3 separate regions of the Homo sapiens genome follow, and all the other regions are reported to be linked to region 3. Evidence: microRNA targets listed by miRTarBase, many of them from high-throughput screens and not tested one by one. Region 3 holds a microRNA gene; each other region holds the end of a gene's coding sequence.

The links. The annotated mature microRNA hsa-miR-4638-5p reads ACUCGGCUGCGGUGGACAAGU and lies in region 3 at 1,981-2,001, shown strand. An mRNA with a match to its seed (bases 2 to 7 or 8) in the 3' UTR can be bound and repressed. Matches are read on the target gene's strand: a 7mer-m8 pairs with bases 2 to 8, a 7mer-A1 pairs with bases 2 to 7 and ends in A, and an 8mer does both.
Region 1: miRTarBase lists TRMT10B as a target of hsa-miR-4638-5p. Seed matches in the 3' UTR shown: 8mer at 681-688.
Region 2: the mRNA of RPL34 is a reported target of hsa-miR-4638-5p. The part of its 3' UTR that is shown has no 7-base or 8-base seed match.

Annotation. Positions count from the first base shown.
Region 1 is chr9:37,777,270-37,781,512 of GRCh38, forward strand. TRMT10B (tRNA methyltransferase 10B) reads left to right here. Exons shown (of 9, transcript NM_144964.4): 9 at 332-1,703. The coding sequence ends at 438. EXOSC3 (exosome component 3) reads right to left here. Exons shown (of 4, transcript NM_016042.4): 4 at 2,445-3,611. The coding sequence ends at 3,410. Among named protein-coding and RNA genes, the nearest start is that of EXOSC3, 5.7 kb to the right of the region's middle.
Region 2 is chr4:108,624,768-108,629,010 of GRCh38, forward strand. RPL34 (ribosomal protein L34) reads left to right here. Exons shown (of 5, transcript NM_001319236.2): 5 at 361-603. The coding sequence ends at 445. Among named protein-coding and RNA genes, the nearest start is that of RPL34, 6.3 kb to the left of the region's middle.
Region 3 is chr5:181,220,613-181,224,612 of GRCh38, reverse strand. MIR4638 (microRNA 4638) reads left to right here and starts at 1,980; the gene lies at 1,980-2,047. TRIM41 (tripartite motif containing 41) reads right to left here and starts at 1,332. Exons shown (of 6, transcript NM_033549.5): 1 at 1-1,332. The coding sequence starts at 613. It overlaps TRK-CTT2-3 (tRNA-Lys (anticodon CTT) 2-3), which reads left to right and starts at 2,562; the gene lies at 2,562-2,634. TRV-CAC1-5 (tRNA-Val (anticodon CAC) 1-5) reads left to right here and starts at 2,146; the gene lies at 2,146-2,218. RefSeq lists enhancers at 1-436, 1,104-1,333 and silencers at 584-793, 2,064-2,293, 2,544-2,753.

The DNA of each region.
Region 1 (4,243 bases), not on the chromosome of region 3:
TCACCACTGAATTCCTGTTTGATCTTCAGGGTTCAGTTCAGGAGCATCTTGGCCCTTCCCCATCCCAGGCCACAGCAGAGCCCTTCTGTTTCCCATTTTACTGTGTTCCTTTCTGTTGCACCCTATCCATTCATAGGCCTGTATCTTTCAGGGTAGGCTGAGGTCCTTGAGAGCAAGCAGAGCCTGTGTCCTTGCCTCTCCCCGCAAGACCTTAGTACCACATATGGTGCAGAATAGGTTTGTTGAACGAAATATTACAGAACATCCTTTTCATTTACTCGTTCTTTTTTTCCCTCTGTGGTCACTGTGTTTTCTGTTTACTCTCTAACAGTGTTTGATATCCTGTCCACTTACTTAGAGACTCACAACTGGCCTGAAGCATTGAAGAAAGGAGTTTCTTCAGGAAAAGGCTATATTCTTCGGAACTCAGTGGAATGATGGGCCTAAGATTGCAGCTGCGTGGCCAGGTGCTCACGCCGTAATGCCAACACTTTGGTAGACCGAAGTGGGCAGATCACCTGAGGTCAGGAGTTCACGACCAGCCTGGCCAACATGGTGAAACCCTTCTCTACTGAAAATACAAAAATTAGCCAGGTGTGGTGGCGCATACCTGTAGTCCCAGCTACTTGGGAGGCTGAGGCAGGAGAATCACTTGAACTCGGGAGGCGAAGGTTGCAGTGAGCCGAGATTTCACCAGTGCACTCCAGCCTGGGTGACAGAGCAAGACTCCATCTCAAAAAAAAAATAAATAAAAAAAAATGCAGCTGCAGGAGTGAGGCGCTTGGAGGTACCTTGACCCAAAGAGCAGGGCAGAGGGTGGCAGTGGCACATAGGCAAGTGTCTTTGCATGACATCTTCTCAGAGCTTCACAATAATGTCAGGGACCACATTTAATGCTTTTTAATCTCCCATAGTGCCTGGCTCACAGGAAGTGCTCAGATATGTTAAGTAATAAAAAGTTAATGTGGTGGGTGCAGTGGCTCACGCCTGTAATCCCAGCACTTTGGGAGGCTGAGGTGAGTGGATTACAAGGTCAGGAGTTCCAGACCAGCCTGGCTAATATGGTGAAACCTCGTCTCTACTAAAAATACAAAAATTAGCTGGGCATGGTGGTGCGTGCCTGTAGTCTCAGCTACTCAGGAGGCTGAGGCAGGAGAATCGCCTGAACCCGGGCGGCGGAGGTTGTAGTGAGCCAAGATCCAGCCTGGGCGACAGAGCCAGACTCTTGTCTCGAGGGGAAAAAAAAAAAAAATTATGTAACAAGGAATTAGCCTCAAAACCACATGGCTTTGGACGTGCTAATTCAACTTTTGTACATCTATTTGTGAGAGACCTCTTGAAATTGTTTAAATGGTTACATCAAGAGTTTAATATTCACTAAACTGGCATCATAAAATTGTATGACTTTCTCCAGCCTTGTCTGATCATGCTCGTTGTTGCCCAGCTCAGTAATAAGCTTTGCAGGATCCAGCCTGTTCTGACCTATCCCTACTGAGTCCCCATAGCATTTTGTTCCCTCCTGTGGCTCTTACCTTGTTCTCCCTTGCAGAGTATGGGCATGGAGGGCTTCTCTTCCTAATCCTTCCTAATGGTAGGATCCTAACAGGACAAATCTGTGTACCTATCTTTCTATCCTCCCTGAGCCTGTACCAACTAGATTCTTCATATGTATTTGTAACAGATTAAATTGGAAAGCAAACACAGTATTGATTAAGTCTGTCTTGAAAATAGCTAGAAAGTGTTAGACACATGAACACGTTAGATAACCTACTTATTACACAAATCTCATGTTCCTTATGTCCCAGTTGGACATATTTGCTTCAGTTACTCTGACAGTTTGGGTTAACTTGCTAGTTAAGCAGCTAGCAAATTTGGGACATGTATTCAATATCTCAAAAGAACCAACAGATTACTTCTCTGCTGTGTCCCCTCCCCTTCACAATTTAATTCCTAAGGAACTGTTCACCTAATCAGTACTTTTCTATTTAAAAACTGGCTAGACAGTTCATAATAAAAGATATGGGACCAACCTAAGTACCCATCAACCAATGAATGGATAAAGTGTGGTATATATATCCCATGGAATATTAGCCATAAAAAATGTCTTTTGCAGCAACTTGGATAGTATTGGAAGCTATTATTCTTAGTGAAGTAACTCAGGAATGGAAAACCAAATACCAAATGTTCCCACTTTAAGTGGGAGCTAAGCTACAGGTAAGCACACAGAGTGGTATAACAGATACTGGAGACCCGGAACAGGGAAGGGGGAAGGATAAACTACATACTGGGTACAATATATAGTACTCAGGTGACTGGTACACCAAAATCTCAGACTTCACCACTATACAATTCATCCGTGTAATCCAAAACCACTTGTACCCCTAAAAGCTATTGAACTAAAAACCATCCAGTCCTTAGAAAACATTAGAAACACACGAAGCTCCTTGGTCTTTATCAACAAATAGAGTTCTATAATCTCTTTGATCCAAAAAGGACTTTCTATGGATAGGCTTCAGGGGATCTGTATCTCACATATTCTCAGAGGTCTAGAAACCAAGAATCACTGATGTGGATCACCTGGCAGTCTCTTTACCTCTAAAGGTTTTGGTTAATATACTAAATAGCATAGAAGAGTTTTCTATGCTTAGCTCCTAGGAAATGATTTTAGCAAAATAAGACTTGGCCAGATTTGGATTCAGAAATCCTCATAGTGTTATTTATATAATGATAAAACTCAAAAATATCCTGTAACATGAAATATGTGACTAAAGTTGTGAAATGTATCATGCTGTTTGAAGTAGACAAAAGTATATTACAAAGTGGCATATAAGCTATAATAACTATAATTTCAATTTGATGAATATAGAGAATGTAGGCCAAGTTAAATTCTGTGCCTCAGTTTCAATTATGAGGATAAGTGTCTTCTGCAGTTAGAATAAAGGAGTTAATCCATGCAAAACACAATACTTGGTAAATGAAAAAGTATTTCGTTGTTATATACTCACCCGCTGAATAATGGGACTACAGGTGACATTTCTTTGCTGCTTTATACTTAGGTATTCCACATTTCCTCTGGTGAACCTGGCTTACTGTTATAATCACAAAATTATTTTACTGCTGACCTCCAGTTAATTATGGAAGCTGTAGCAATTACTAAGGGAGTTAACTCCAAATAAACCCTAATACTGTTTTTTAGTAAACTTTATTGTACCGAACAAAAAAAATGATTTTGCAATGATTTTCTCTCCCACAAAAGCGTGGGTGAAAACCAGTAACTTATAAAAATACTTTCGGACTCTAATAATACATACATTCACACCTTATCTTCTGAGTATTTAAATGGGGGAGGTTCACCTGAAAAAACCCATAGTTTTTTGCCTCAACTGACCTGTAAAAAAGTCCACCTATATCAACTTTCTGCCAATCTGGAGAAGATCTGTTTTCTTTGATCTGACGTCATGTGTTCACAAGCTTCTAAAATGTTTGCCAAAATTAAAGTCTGCTGGATGGTTTTTGCCTTAACCCATATTCTTCCATTCATTCCAAATACTATCTCCAGTGGATAGAGTTTTCCCACTTCCTGTATGATTTCACAATCTGGAGCTAATAGCCTGGTGGGAAGAGAAAAGAAAATGAAATTTAATGAAGTGGCAAAGGTGTGTCCGGAGTCTCCTTTAGAATGTGATTCCTTTTCTGAGCAGTTCTCCATAGCTGTTCAACAAGAACAAGGCACGTGATGACATTTGCTGCCTCCTTTCTTCCAAGAAGGAACTTTACACTGTTCAAAGGTATACTAGAAATCACAGAGGTGGGCTATGCCTTACAAAGAAATCAAACTCCCTAGGTTACCAACTTTGTAAAAGTCATTCCCCTAGATGGTCAGAGCACTTTAATTCTAGACTGGGAATCATAACTTTTTTTATCTACAGTGTTAAGACACTTTAAACTTATTTTCCTGGCCATATTATTCTCTTGTGTTAAATTCAGTACTTGGAGAGGAACATTGGCTCTTTCAAACCATAAGGGTGGTGCTTGGTTAATAACATGCTTCTTGGTTAAAAACATGCTTCTCTGATGTCCAAACTTAATTCTCCAGATCTTTAGGATATGTAGTAAGGAGAGGCATACAAGATAGCTCTCAACTTCACTGGCTCTAGGAGTAAAGCCCCTGAATATGGCACAGCTTTGGGTGGGTAAAGTTCTAAACACCAAAAAGAGAATCTGCCTCAGCATGAACCTCAGT
Region 2 (4,243 bases), not on the chromosome of region 3:
TACTGGGAATTTTCAAAAATATGGTTAAAATATTCTAAGACATTTTGCAAATCAAGAAATACCACTATTCCTGGATCCTAACAATAAATTAGAGCTCTCATAAGTGGTCTCCTGTGGGGATGACTTCATAGTTTATCTTGACTCAGAAGGAGGACAGATAACTACTGGCATGAAATTGAAGGATTATCCTGCTTTAAATGAATTTCACCTTTTAAGTTTTACTCTGTATTTGTGTATCCTGTAGTTTCCTGGGTTCCCTGATTGCTTTGCTTGGTTCTTTACCATGTTTGCCTTCTCTGTGCTAAATAAAAAATGAAGTTCATTTTAAAGAAATGATTAATTTGGTATTTTCCTTTCTAGGATCAAGCGTGCTTTCCTTATCGAGGAGCAGAAAATCGTTGTGAAAGTGTTGAAGGCACAAGCACAGAGTCAGAAAGCTAAATAAAAAAATGAAACTTTTTTGAGTAATAAAAATGAAAAGACGCTGTATGTATGACTTTTTTTTTTTCTGTTGTAATGTGTTAGTATACAGATTTTGTTTCTGTATGGTATTTGGGGACCCTATAGTTTTTAGCAGATTACTTTTTCTTGTTTTGTTTGTTGTTTGTTTGTTTTTGGTTTGGTTTGGTTTTTTTGAGACGGAGTTTCTCTCTTGTTGCCTAGGCTGGAGTACAATGGCAGGATCTCGGCTCACCGCACCCTCTGCCTTCCAGGTTCAAGTGATTCTCCTGCCTCAGCCTCCCAAGTAGCTGGGATTATAGGCATGTGCCACCATGCCTGGCTAATTTTGTATATTTTAGTAGAGACGAGGTTTCTCCATGTTGGTCAGGCTGGTCTCAAACTCCCGACCTCAGGTGATCTGCCCACCTCGGCCTCCCAAAGTGCTGGTGTTAAGGTGCGAGCCGCAGCACCCAGCCAGTGGGTTACTTTTTCTGAAGAAACAGTTGGTGGTCACTGATGGCCAGAATTTTTTTGGTGACAGCTCTACCGCTGCATTGGAGCATAATGTCCTTCTCTTTGTGGGCTGAGACTTCAGGGTGGTTTGGGAGGAATGGCCCTTCTATTTGAAACTTTAATATCCCTTTGATCCTTACTATGGTATCTCCTTTACGTCAGCAAGTTTCATAGGATAGAAACCTTGGTATTCTAGTTCCTTGGAATGGAACCTTTTTAAGATTGTTTTTAAACCCTCTGTTCTTTTAGGTCACTTCAGTTCAAAAATGGTATCTTGGAGAGCTCAGAACTCCTTATTTAACAAATGAGTGAGCTACTATATATAAAACCTTGGGTCAAGGGTATAGTTTCTGATCTACATTGGATTTATTATCCAGGCCAGAATGTTAAAATACAGACCTCATTTTTCTTGGGAACTATGTAGTGTTTCTGCCAGCTCAGACAAGGTTTCACTCCTGCTGCCCAGCCTGGAGTGCAATCTTGGCTTGCTGCAACCTCCACCTCCTGGACTCAAGTGATTCTCTGCCTCAGCCTCCCAAGTAGCTGGGACTACAGGTAGGCACCACCATGCCTGGCTCATTTTTGGTTTTTTGAGAAACAGTTTCACCATGTTCCTAGGCTGGTCTCAAAACTCCTGGGCTCAAGCAGTCTGCCTGCCTCAGCCTCCCAGCGTGCCAGGATTACAGGCATGAGCCATTCTTCTGCCCAACCTGTTGGCTGACAACCTTTTTTTTTTTTTTTTTTTTTGAAATGGAGCCTTGCTCTTGCCCAGGCTGGAGCGTACTGGCTCGATTTCGGCTCACTGCAACCTCCACCTCCTGGGTTCAAGCAATTCTGCCTCAGCCTCCTGAGGATTACAGGCGCCCACCACCACACCCGGCTAATTTTTGTATTTTTAGTAGAGATGGGGTTTTGCCATATTGGCCAGGTTCATCTTGAACTCTTGATCTCAAGTGATCCGCCCACCTTGGCCTCCCAAAGTGCTGAGATTACAGGCGTGAGCCCTTGCACCCGGCCAACACCATCTCTTAAAGCCATAACAAGCTTTATTCCAATCTGAGTAGAGAGCAGAGACCTTGAGCCATCATGGAATGCAGAAGCTGAAAGTACCTGGGGAGTTCAGTAAATTTTGACTATTTTCCTCAGTTGAGGAAAATTTACCTACTAACTGGCATGATGTAACTACTTAAGCAGAGGAGAGTTACCGCTTAGCTATACATAAGAACATGCTTTTCTGGCTGGACGCCGTGGTTCATGCCTGTAATCCCAGTACTTTGGGAGGCCAAGGCGGGCGGATCATGAGGTCAGGAGATCGAGACCATCCTGTCTAGCACGGTGAAACCCCGTCTGTACTAAAAATACAAAAAACTAGCTGGGCGTGGTGGTATGCGTCTGTAATCCCAGTTACTCGGGAGGCTGAGGCAAGAGGATTGCTTGAACCCGGGAGGCAGAGGTTGCAGTAAGCCAAGATCGCGCCACTGTACTCTCGCCTGTGCGACAGAGCGAGACTCGGTCTCCAAAAAAAAAACACCTTTTCTTAGGCCAGACCCAGTGGCTCACCCCTATAGTCCCAGTCTCAACACTTGGGATGCTGAGGCAGGAGGATCACTTGAGGACAGGAGTTGGAGACCACCCTGGGCAGCTTGGCAAGACCCTGCCTAAAAAATAATTAAAAAATAAGAATACCCCTTAAGGTAAAAGGCAAAAAAAATGGGATTTCATAACACCTTTACTGTACCCCACTGCCAGTTAACTTGTTCTTGGTATAAAAAATTTTTAATTAGTGTTTTGCAGAAGAGGAGTCACAGAACTAGTAAGTGGCAAAGCTGGCAGTTGAACTCCCTTTTAAGAATTTAACCGCCAGGCGCGGTGGCTCACGCCTGTAATCCCAGCACTTTGGGAGGCTGAGGCAGGTGGATCACCGGAGGTCAGGAGTTCGAGACCAGCCTGACCAGTATGGTGAAACCCCGTCTCTACTAAAAATAACAAAAATTAGCCAGAAGTGGTGGCATGCACCTGTAATCCCAGCTATCAGGAGAATGAGGCAGAAGAATCGCTTGAACCTGTGAGGCAGAGGTTGCACTGAGCCGAGATTGCACCACTGCACTCCAGCCTGAGTGACAGTGAGACTCCTCAAAAAAAAAAAAAAAATTTAATTTTAACCACAGTACACTTGATTGGCTGTGTGCCTGACTCCACCAAATTTGTTTTAGTCCTCCCAGCAACTCCAACAGCTTTATTCCCATTTTACTGATGAGAGAACAGACACAGGTTATAGAAAACCCAGAGCCATTTGTATTGTTGGTAGGATTTTTGCAGCTGTGTTAGTGAATAAGTGTAATGACCGGGCACCCTAATAAATGCTAGCATAATCAATGATAGCTGGGATCCCTGTTGTCAACATTCATAGTCTCAAACGATTGAGATACATTAGCTTTCTCCAAACACCTGCCAATCCCAAAGATTGTTAAGCAACCAGGATAATAGAATTAATTATCTTGTATAATGTTTAATCACAGTATTGAAAATATAAAACGGGGATAGAATTGAAAAGCTTGAATTCTAAGGCAGATTTACATCACTTTCTCATGATTCAGGCTTATATATACTGCACCAAGCAGTTCTGTGACTGTGTTTTATTGTATTTGATATAACCATCTAAAAATTGGCACTTTTAATAATATACTCAGACAATAATGTGGCTTAAAACTTAAACTAATTGGCTGCTCTGTAGGCCAGTCTAGTTTTTGAAAGGTTTGAGATGTAATTTCTGAAAAAATTGCTGTGGAAGAGAAAGCCTATTTGCCACCCCAACCTGAGTTCTTGCTGGTGGAAGGAGGCTCCTCCCTCTCCTTGCTGCTCCAAGTTAGGTAGAACAACATGACTGGACACAGGCTCTAGCTGGTGGGAACTAGCAAGTTTCAGCAAAATATGAAATGGGTGACCTTTGAGAAATGTAAGGAAGTTAAAGAATTGAGGTGTACATTCTTTTCCAAGAATTCTTGGTATGTTAAATGGTTTTACTTAACAAACAGCTTTGTAGACTATTTGGAAAGTTTGGAAAAATAGAATGATAAAAAATCTCAATTTCACTACTTACTATTATTATTATTATTTTGGAGACAGAGTCTCACTCTATCACCCAGGCTGGAGTGCAGTGACGCGATCTCAGCTTACTGCAACCTCCACCTCCTGGGTTTAAGCCATTCTGCCTCAGCCTCCCGAGTAGCTGGGATTACAGGCGCCTGCCACCACATCTGGCTAATTTTTGTATTTTTAGTAGAGACGG
Region 3 (4,000 bases):
CCATATTGGCCAGCTGCAGGTTGGGGCGGAAGCTCCGCCGAGGAAAGCTCTTTCGGCACTGAGGGCATGTGAAGCACCTCCGAGGGGCTGGAGGCGGGGGCAGTGGGGTGACGGGGTCTAGATCCTCTTCCTCAACCTCCTCCAGCACTTCCTCCTCGTCCTCCTCATCCTCCCCCCTCAGGTCCTCCTCCTCCATGTCCCCCAAGTAGTAGTCCAGGTCTTCCTCCTCGTCCTCCTCCTCCCACACATAGTCCATGTTGTCCCAGCTGGACCTGCTCATGCCACTGGTCCAGAACACACCCTCTTCTTCCTCCTCGACCTCCTCCTCCATGTCACCCTCGTAGTCTTCATCCCGCATGGGGGTGTCCCACCCCGCGCCAGCCCCCACAGCCTCCACTTCCTCCTCCTCTCCGTCCTCCTCCTCCTCCTCCCGATCTAACTCATCTCTGTCCTCCTCATCCTCCCCACCCCACAACTGGGTTACACAAACTCGGCAGAAGTTGTGCCCGCAGCCGATGGACACGGGGTCCGTGAAGTAATCGAGGCAGATGGCGCACACCGCCTCCTCCTGAAGGGTCTGCACAGGGTTGGGTGTCATGGCAACGGCAGCCATCTTAGTGTCCAGCCAGCCAGTGTAGAGGTTCGGTGGGGGGGCGAGGGGCGGGGGTCTTCCCTACCGACGCCCTGGCGACCCGGCTCCACCCCCAGCCCTGCCCCTCCACACCTCGCCCCAAGAGCAGCCAGAGAGATGTCCTGCCGACAACCCACCCCAACACAGTGTTCCCTACTCCCAAACGACAACCGTGTCTCTACGAGGGGAGGGGACAGTGCTGGGCGCCACCGCCAAGTCCCTCAGGTGGCTCTGAGTACAAGTCTGCCCCAATGCTCCCTTGGACTCCTCATAAACCCCCGCCCCTCCTCACTTCCTGGCCCCGCCCCTAGCTTCCGGCCTCCTTCCCAACACTTCCGGCGTCTACACACCACCTAAGCTCGCGACTTCCCTCCGCTGTCCTGCTACTCCCCCTTTTTCCCCGCGGGGCCCCAGGGCGACAGGAAATGGCGAGGAGACGCTCTAGTCCGCACTAGAGAACAGGGCGGGAGGGCTAGGACGGTGGAGGCCCGCGTCTCTGTGGTAAGAGGCCGCGGGGAACGCAGAAAGAACAGAGGAACCGCCTACCCCCATCCCCCGCCGCTGGGGAGAAACTTCGGGGGGTAGGGGGAGCGCCTGGCGGCCGTCTGCTTTCGGTGCTATCACCGCATCGGCCAGACGCCATCCTACCCTCCCGGCACAGCCGACTGCAGCCGGTACTCCCCACAGCCGATGCCGGAAGCGAGGGGGTGGGTCCGCGGCGCGCCCTGAAGTACTTCCGGCCCTTCTAGGCAGACGACTTCGTTGTGGAGGACTCAGAGGGTCGTCCGGGTCGGACCGGGGGCGGGGCCTGAGAAAGCGCTTCGCGGGTTAGGGCAGCAGACGCCCCACCCTTCCCCAACTGTAGTCGGCGTTTCGCATCCGAGGTAGAAACTGCCAACCGGACACTGTCTCATGGTTTAGATGAACTTCCCTAACTGCCCAGCAGTGAAGAAGTGGTGACGAATCATTACATCTACATTCTCACAGCATCTCTGCAAAAATAGATGCTTTGTGCGGTAGAAATAATACTTGATGCTTAAATAGCTCTTTAAATTTTATTTTTATAGAGATTTGATGTCGATACATAAATAAATAAATGTTGTTTGATGCGAGAAAAATGACGGGGCCATGATTTATGTACAGAATCTCCAGTGAGTGCCAGACACAGCGTGACGCCAGGGCTGGGCCTGCAGAACTTACCCTGCTCTCAAGGCGGCTCGCGGGAAAACTCCAGATGGACGTCGCGCTTCCTAGGGGGGTGGTCAGGCCTCTGAGTATGTCAGATCAAACGCGCCAAAAACCACGAACCCTCGTGGGTGAACTATGCTAGGCCATTACAGGACCTGCGGACTCGGCTGCGGTGGACAAGTCCGGCTCCAGAACCTGGACACCGCTCAGCCGGCCGCGGCAGGGGTCCCCGGGCCTGTCCTACAAGGGCGCTTGCCTAGAGCTATCCCGGCCGTCTCAGCCGTGTGTGTCTTCAGGACGATGCCGGCAGGAAAGTAGCCAAGGTGGTTTCCGTAGTGTAGTGGTTATCACGTTCGCCTCACACGCGAAAGGTCCCCGGTTCGAAACCGGGCGGAAACACGTTTTGGTCTGTTCGGGAGATTCTCTCCCGAGGCCGGCCTTACGTGGCAGGAAGGACATGTGTGTCCCTGCGCTTCGGAGGAACACGGACTGGGGCAAAACTGAAGGAGAGCACTACTCAAGTAAATTCAGGTCTCGCCCCTCACCTAATCTCTTGCTCTTCCCTTCTGAAGCCTATGCAGCCATCACATGTACAGGAATCCGTAGATTTCAGATCCTCGGCTCTAGTGCCTAGAACAGAGCCAGGCGCAGGCGCTTCTTAGTATTTGCACAGTGGAAACGTGCTTACACCTCTGAGGGTAACCTCCATCTTCAGAGACAAAGTTAGAATACAGACATGGCCGCCCGGCTAGCTCAGTCGGTAGAGCATGAGACTCTTAATCTCAGGGTCGTGGGTTCGAGCCCCACGTTGGGCGTAATTTCGCTTTTTGGAAAGGTTAAGGCAAGTTGTGTTACCTAAGTGCACAAATGGTATTCTCTGTACCAAGACCTAGTGGGTAGCAGATTCACCAACAGTGGGTGTTAGAACTTGGACTAACCTGGTGTTCTCCGATCCGTGTGTGGAAGGCCCCGAGCAGAATTCTCACAACGTTTGCACCCTCGCTAACTCTCAAAGAAAGAATGAGAGGCGGGTACCTGTGGACCAATTCCTGCAGGCCAGCACCGCGGGCTATCGTGCATGCATGACCCTTTGCTGTAGGCCACTCGCCCACGGGCAGCACATATTAGGCATTTTATGTTTACCAGACGGCCTGCCCCCGTCTTGCTGTGAGACTTGCTGTGCTGGAGGGAACAATGTGGTTTATCGAAACTGGGGTGAGACCGCAGGACGACCCCAGGCGTTCGTGAGCGTCAAAACCTATCTGATTCACTCCCACTTTACTGGGAGATTTAGTGGTTAGGCTTCCGCCTTTGTCTCGCTACGACCTGCTTTCGACTCCCTGTCAAGAAAGATGCTTTGTGTCATATGAGACACTTGTCTTCCGTATATTCTTTTTTATGCTCTTGACTTTAAGAGTCTATTTTTGTGAGATGTTGCCCCACAAATACCAGCCTCCACGTTTCCCCCATACATAAATAGAGATAAAAACGGGCCATGCGCCGCGGTGGCTTATGCCTGTAATCCCAATACTTTGGGTAAGCCAAGGCGGGAGGATCGCTTGAGCCCAGGATGGCCTCGAAATTAGTCCTGCAAATATAGGCCTTTTTTCTTTTTTTCTTCTCTTTCTTTCTTTCTTTTTTTTTTTTTTTTTTTAAGATGGAGTCTTGCTCTGTTTCCAGGCTGAAGTGCAGTGGCACCACCTCGGCTCACTACGACCTCCGCCTCCCGGGTTCAAGTGATTCCCCTGCCTCAGCCTCCCGAATAGCTGAGACTACAGGCGCGCCACCACGCCCGGCTAATTTTTTGTATTTAGTAGAAACGGGGTTTCACCATGTTGGCAGGACGGTCTCGATCTCCTGACCTCGTGATCCTCCTGCCTCAGCCTCCCAAAGTGCTGGGATGACAGGCGTGAGCCACCGCGCCTGGCCCCGTTTTGTATTTTTAAGCTGTCGAAGTCTCCTCCGCATACGCACCACACCACGAGAGAAGTCTGTTGATCATAGAAAGCTGGCTTAATCTCGCTGAGCAAAAGATAGCATCGTCTTCTGTCTCAGACGTAAATCAAAGCGGGGACTTATGAGGGCTATATAGTCTGTGAGGGCGGTCTGGGCAGAAGTTGGTCAACGTTTGTAAATAGGCAGAGTCGCTAGTACAATCCTAGCACATGAGTTACTGGTGTT